2 linked regions of the Homo sapiens genome follow. The protein of the gene in region 1 purifies or fractionates together with the protein of each later gene. This does not show direct contact. Each region holds a gene or a part of one and is shown in the gene's direction. Other genes may lie near its edges.

Region 1 (3,500 bases):
TTTGAGGCTTTCGGCTGGGACTGGATCATCGCACCTAAGCGCTACAAGGCCAACTACTGCTCCGGCCAGTGCGAGTACATGTTCATGCAAAAATATCCGCATACCCATTTGGTGCAGCAGGCCAATCCAAGAGGCTCTGCTGGGCCCTGTTGTACCCCCACCAAGATGTCCCCAATCAACATGCTCTACTTCAATGACAAGCAGCAGATTATCTACGGCAAGATCCCTGGCATGGTGGTGGATCGCTGTGGCTGCTCTTAAGGTGGGGGATAGAGGATGCCTCCCCCACAGACCCTACCCCAAGACCCCTAGCCCTGCCCCCATCCCCCCAAGCCCTAGAGCTCCCTCCACTCTTCCCGCGAACATCACACCGTTCCCCGACCAAGCCGTGTGCAATACAACAGAGGGAGGCAGGTGGGAATTGAGGGTGAGGGGTTTGGGGGAAAGGGGAAGCAGGGGCATAGTCAGGGTGGGGAGTGTTTGAAGTTTGCAGATGAGAAGGTTTGACAAAAAGACAGAGAGATGTAGAGACAGTGATAGAGACAGAGGAACAAAAAGAGCAGCAGTGAGAAGGCAAAGAGAGAGGCAGAAGAGACAGACGAGGCAGAGACAAAACACTGAGAAAGAGACTGAAATGGAGTAATAAATGAAAGCCCCACACCAAGCCTCCTTTCTTCCACTGGCAAGGTGAGGGGCTTGGTATAGTTTGGGGAGATCCCCTGACTATTCAGTAGGAGAAGAAATCAAAAATCCATTCTTTTCTCCTTCTCTCCCTCCAACAGTGGCCAGGGGAAGGGGAAGTGAGGGCAGGGGCAAAAAGATTTGGGAATTTTTATTTATTTATTTATTGTGACTTTTCATTTTTTTGGTATTTGGCTTTACTGGAATAGGAGGGCCCCTGCCCACTGTGCCCCGTTTATCCCTTATTCCCCAAACCCTGCTCTCCCCAACACCTACTCACTTAAGCACTTGTATAAAGCCTCCAGGGTTGGGAATGGGAGTAAAGGGCAAGAGGGCGGACACATGAAGTTTAGTTTCTAACCCATCATCACCCTAACTCAACCTTTTCTGAGCCAAATGGCTTGAATTGAAGCCAGTTGTCATGGAAATAGTAAGAGGTTAGGGTTTAAGAGCTGGGGATGCGGGGGTGGGAGAGAGAACCCTCAACATCCAGGATCTATATAATGAGAGCTACTTTAAACCCTCAGGTCCACCCTCATGATGCTGAGTTATTTAGCCAGAGGGTGCAGCCTGCTTATGCCCAAATTCCCTCAGCCAAGAGAGAGACCAAAGAGCCTCTGGAATGGCCCTGCTCCCAGCCTCTATCTTCAGGTCAATTAGAGAGAGTATAGAGACCCCAGAGTCCCCTGGGTCTGGAAAGCGTTAGGAGAGGTCAAGAAAGGAGCAGTAAGGAGGCTGAAGGTTACAGGGCATTTGAATCCAAATCACTGCTCTGGGCTAGGGAATAGAGCCAGCAGACCAAGGTGGGAAGGATTCTGGAAGGGGGACATTTTAGTCTCCTAACCCCAAAGCTCAGGGTGGAAGAGGGGAGAACAAGGAAGCAGAGTGTATAATTATTTTTTCCTTTTATTTTTGGAATCTAACAGTACCTGGCAGCAGGGAGGGGAAAGTACAGTGGGGAAAAGCATCTGACAAGGCCAGTTAGAACAGAGGATGGGAAGGATGGAGACTCCCGGGCTTGGAAGGCTAGGAAGCAGGCAGAGACTGGTTGCCATTTCAAGTCACTAGCTAGGCCCATTCATTCCTCCCACAACCCTGACCCATTCTCCTCTGGACTCACTGTGCCTCAGTTTCTTCCCCTCAATGGAATGAGAAATGACAGCACCCGCCACAGCCAAGAGATGAATTCTGAGCACTTACCACGGGCACTTTATGGACATAAAATACCTCTCGCTGTGGGACAGATAACCAGGGCACCAGAGTAGTGGTGAAGAGATGTGAGGCTTAAGAGGAGTCACAGGCTTCAGAGTACAAGTTCCCCTCTGCCTCCCAGCTGGACAGTGCCTAGAAGCCAAGGAGTTGAGAATCTCCTGATCCACACCCTATCCTTACTTCACCACCAGGCCTCTTGGCTCCAGGCAAGAGCTTAGAGGATGTCAGGAGAGGTGGGGGTAAGAATCTTCAGCAAAACTGTCACTCTAAGTAGAGCCAGCAGTTACGGGTCTGATAAAAACAGTACTGAACTAAAGTAAAGCCCAAGCTGGTGAGCAAAACTGGATGGCTCATTCTTCCCAAGAGCATGACTCTCCCCCTTGGCCAGTTGGTGGAAGGGGCAAAGGTATGTGACCACCCTTGAGAAGGTGATGTTGGTGAGCTTTAACATCTTATTCCTATTCTTATAGTGAGAAAGTGAAACAAGATCTTTCAGTAGAGGAATGGGCAGGGCTGTTAGGCTCTTCAGCTTGCCTTCACCCATATAGCAGCTATGCTAACCCCAAGCCTCTCTGGCCCTGTTCTTCATCCTTCCTTCTGCCCCAATCCTGAAGGACAAGACACACCCGGCCATCAACACCACTCACATTTCCTTGGTGGAAGGAAAGGAACAGAGAAGTGAAGAACAGATACCTCCCTCCAAGGTCAAATGCCTCGTGATCTTGGCAGAGTAGGGATTGGGCAATAAGCATCAGGTATCTTCCCTCTACAGATTCTAGAGAGCTGGGGCATTAAATATGGGGGACACTTAGAATACAGCTCCTTAAATACCACCAAATAAAGACCTTTGTGTGTGTGTGGTGGGTGGGGGGGGGGCAGGGGTCTTTCTCTTATGAACATAAATCTGTGAGCTGAAGTCTCATTCCCCTGTTCCTCCCTACCCCCAAAGAGGCACAGAGTGAAGGGACTTGGGGGGCACAGCTCAGCAACCCAGTGGGAGTTAGCACCCCCTCCCACCTTATGATGTGTGTGGACCTGGCCAGTGCCCCTCTGAACATATCATTATTAGTGTAATTATCATTTATTTTGTGTATTTGTCACATTGTGTGCATGACAGCCTTTGTTAAGGGTGTCTGAGGAGTATGGAGCTGACAGGGGCATTGGAATGCCAGGAAAGAACTTCTTCAACTGAGATCAAGGCTTCCTGGAGGGAACCACTGCAAAAAGGCCATCAGGCAGTTTTCAAGTTATGTGACAGAGGGCAAAGACGGCCATAGGGTGCTCTGAGTTTTGGGATGGTCACATGACACAATCCAGCACTTGAACCTGAAAAAAAAAATAAAAGCGGTCAAAGAGTTTAGAATTCAGTGCTGAGCTCTTCTCCCTAATCAAGTGCCACATTTACACCTTGGAGAACCGGAGGTGAAGAGGATCTGAGACAGGAAACCTCGTGTTCAATGACTAAGAAGATGGGGTCCTGGAGCAAGACAGAAAACACTAAGGGCATGGTGGTATAAGGTTTGGGACATGCAGGCCAAGGAAGGATGGAAAGAGGACAGGAAACTGGGGGTACCTAGAACAACCCCTCTCTGAAAAGCTTGAGCCAA
Region 2 (3,500 bases), on another chromosome or scaffold:
GCTAGAGGTTTGGCCGGGCGCGGTGGCTCATGCCTGTAATCCCAGCACTTTGGAAGGCCGAGGCGGGCGGATCACGAAGTCAGGAGATTGAGACCATCCTGGCTAACACGGTGAAACCCCGTCTCTACTAAAAATACAAAAAATTAGCTGGGTATGGTGGCGGGCGCCTGCAGTCCCAGCTACTCGGGAGGCTGAGGCAGGAGAATGTCTCGAACCCGGGAGGCGGAGCTTGCAGTGAGCCGAGATTGCGCCACTACACTCCAGCCTGGGTGACAGAGCGAGTCTCAAAAAAAAAAAAAAAAAAAAAAAAAGTCAAAACATTTTAGGCAGTCAGCGAGCCTCGTAAATATGTGTTCCTCTGCTGTTGAGAGAATTTGGGTGAAAACGTTTGAGAAGTTTGGAGACTTCTCATTTTAAAATTGGGGAAACTGAGGCTGAAAGGACAAAAGTAGCTCACACAAGGTCATGCAATGAATGACTGGACTTAGAACCCAGGACTCTGAGGCCAGGCTTGTCCCACCACACCCCCTTGTCTGTCTAGGCAAGAGTAAGGGACCTGCAAGTGGTTTTCAGTGTGAGACTTAGGAAAAACTTTACCTGGGGAAGGTAGGAGCAGCCTCACAGAAGGGCTGGCACGTGAGTCCCTAAGGATGCGCTTCCTGGGCACAGAAATCAGGTTGAGCACAGAGGCAGAGAGAACCCTCTTATTCAGGAGCAGTTGTCTCCTCAATGCTGGTTCATCCCCAAAAAGTCAAAGAAGGGCAGTTTTCCCAGACTGTCTTCCACAGAGATGAGACCCCTCCCCAGGCCTCAGTTTCCCCATCTGTGGAATGAGGATTCTCAGGCTTCACAGACGTTTCCACTAAAATGGGCTGTCTTGGGCTCCTGGCACAGCACTGCTGCTCTCTGAGGGGGACCCCGTCTTCTCTCTGTGTCTACGTTCCTGTTGCTTTCCCTGTTCCTGCCTTGCTGAGCTCCTCAGAGGTGGGGAAGCCAGACATCTGCTGATCCATGAATATTCAGGAAGGGAATCGGAGCCTCCTCTGGGCTCCCCAGCCAGCCGCCAGCCCCTCTGGCGGCCGTCCTGCCTGCCAGAGCCCAGGCTGCTGACATACCCAGCAGCTGCTCGGGCCCCAACTGTTCACATTGTTTGTTCAACGCAGCAGGGGATTTTCCAAGCCTGGGACATGCTTTAGGGGGCAGGGAGGCTGCCGGAGGGCTCAGGGATTTGTGTCCTTTGGGGGTTTTCTCCCCTGAAACCCAAACCTACTGCTTAGTGGCTGGAATGGGCATTTGGAAGCCACTGGACTGAGAGCCGGGCTTGCCTTCCTCCTACCCTGTACTTGAATCATGGCATCTAGGGCCTTAGAGATAGAAGGGACTGGATGATAAGAACAGCAAATAGCACTTGTACAGCCCTTTATAGTTACAAAGTGCCTTTAAAGAATAAGCTCCCCGCCGGGCATGGTAGCTCATGCCTGTAATTCCAGCACTTTGGATGTGCTCTTCCAGAGCACTGGATCTTCCAGAGCCAAGGCGTGATCTTCCAGAGCCAAGGCAGGCAGATCACTTGAGGTCAGCAGTTCAAGACCAGCCTGGCCAAAATGGTGAAACCCTGTCTCTACTAAGAATACAAAAATTAGTCAGGTGTGATGGCGCATGCCTGTAATCCCAGCTACATAGGAGGCTGAGGCTGGAGAATCATATGAACCCAGGAGGTGGAGGTTGCAGTGAGCTGAGATCATGTCACTGTACTCCAGCCTGGGCAACAGAGCACAACTGTCGCAAGAACAAACAAACAAAGAATAAGCTCCCATTCCTTGAGTGATGTCTATTAGGCTCTGGGCTGTAGCCCTGACATACATTGTCTTGTTTAATTCCTTCACGCTTAGTGGTATCATCTTCATGTGGAAACTGAGTCCCAGAAAAGTTAAGTGGCTTGTCACAGAGCTGGTAGGTGGAGCAGCAAGACTGAAACCTTGATCTTCTTCCCCAAGGTCAAAAGCTGTTTCCACCACAGCACGTGGCCCGCAGTAGTGTGAATGCCAGATTGGTTTCCCCAACTAGAATGCAAACTTGGTGAGGGCAGGGGCTGCTTCTCCCTGCTGAGCCCGCGAGTACTGCTGAGACTAGTTGTGAAGCCAGAGGTGTCCAGCAGAAACCATCTGATGAATTAAGAAAGGCAGCAGCCCAGGTCAGGTCCTGTCTCTCCGTCCGCCCTTCACACTGCAATCCCAGGCCCTGGCCTCCTTATTTCACGCAGCCATCACTGCTCTTCTCCCCTCACTCTTGTTCCTCTTTGGAGCTGGTGGGAAGGGAGTCTGGAGACTCACAGGGCTTCTAAATGTTGACCTGTGTGTCCAAGTGTTGATGAGTGTGGCAGAGACTGAGGCGCATGTGTTTAGGAGTGCAGAGCTATGTTTACCAATTTGTGTGTGGTCTCAATGGTGTTTTATGTTTGTTCAGGAATAGGTGTGTCCATGTCGTGAATAATCATAGAATCATAGCATCTCAGAGGTCACCTGCTACATTCCAGTGAGCTGGGGCCCAGAAGGGGAAATGACTGGGCCAAAACCACATGGCTAGACTGTGATGGAGCTGGATCTAGAACCGAGGGTCTCCTGATTCCCTCGCCATTGTTTTGTGCACGTCCCCACGTGGCTCTGTCAGCCCAGACCTGCCTTGTGATGAGTATGGGCCATTGTCCTGACCTCTGGCCCTGGTTCCTCTCAGACATGCCATTCTGCCTTAAAGTAAGGAGTCAGACCAGAGCCTAAGAAGGGACCTTGGGCCATTGAGCTTTTATAAGACAAGGAGGCAGCAGGTCAACCTTCTGGAAGACACAACAGGGAGAACCAACCATTTGTCTATGAATAATGGTGGCTGGGCCCTGCAGAACATTGGTTCCAATAATAAACATTGGCTTTTGTGTGTTTTTGCCTTGACCCTGGGATGGCATTCCCTTCCTCTACTGTTTCCCTACTCTTCCCTTTGTGGCAAGGGCAGTGTTGGGGTCTGTAGGTTCCTCTGGGGCCTTGGGAGAAAAAAGAACCCTGGATTGAGTCAGGAGACCTGAGTCCTGGCTCTGGCCTCCTGCATGGCCTTGGGGAAATTAGCTGCAGGGAGTGTTGAGCTTCTCCAGTCACCAGTACAGACCAGGCTGTGGGCTGCCAGGGCCTGGAATGAGCCATGTGAGCCTCCTCTCATGCTGGGTCTGAATCCAGCTTGAGTCTAGTCCCTACCTGGGGCACTTAACAATTCCCAGCAGGATCTGCTCACTTAGTTCATTGTTGGGGAAGGGGGAATGTCTGACTTTCCTTCATCCAGGTGGCTCCCCCAAACAGCTGGGACTTATTTTTGTTTTGTTCATTCAAAATATATAGTATTCACACACACACACACACACACACACACACACACACATTTTCTCACACTTATAATACATTTTAAATGTTTCTTGGATATGGTATTTTTCTAGCCTGTGTGTGTGTGTGTGTGTG

What was found.
Region 2: the proteins of GDF11 (region 1) and IGDCC4 purify together in Homo sapiens (affinity purification with mass spectrometry; one large-scale study listed by BioGRID and IntAct). This does not show direct contact.

What each region holds. Positions count from the first base shown.
Region 1 is NC_000012.12:55,749,622-55,753,121, forward strand, and holds part of GDF11 (growth/differentiation factor 11 preproprotein), read left to right. Parts: coding exon 1-261; 3' UTR 262-3,500. UniProt on the Homo sapiens protein: Secreted signal that acts globally to regulate anterior/posterior axial patterning during development. May play critical roles in patterning both mesodermal and neural tissues. It is required for proper vertebral patterning and orofacial development.
Region 2 is NC_000015.10:65,412,948-65,416,447, reverse strand, and holds part of IGDCC4 (immunoglobulin superfamily DCC subclass member 4 precursor), read left to right. Parts: intron 1-597; exon of another isoform or gene 598-1,120; intron 1,121-3,500.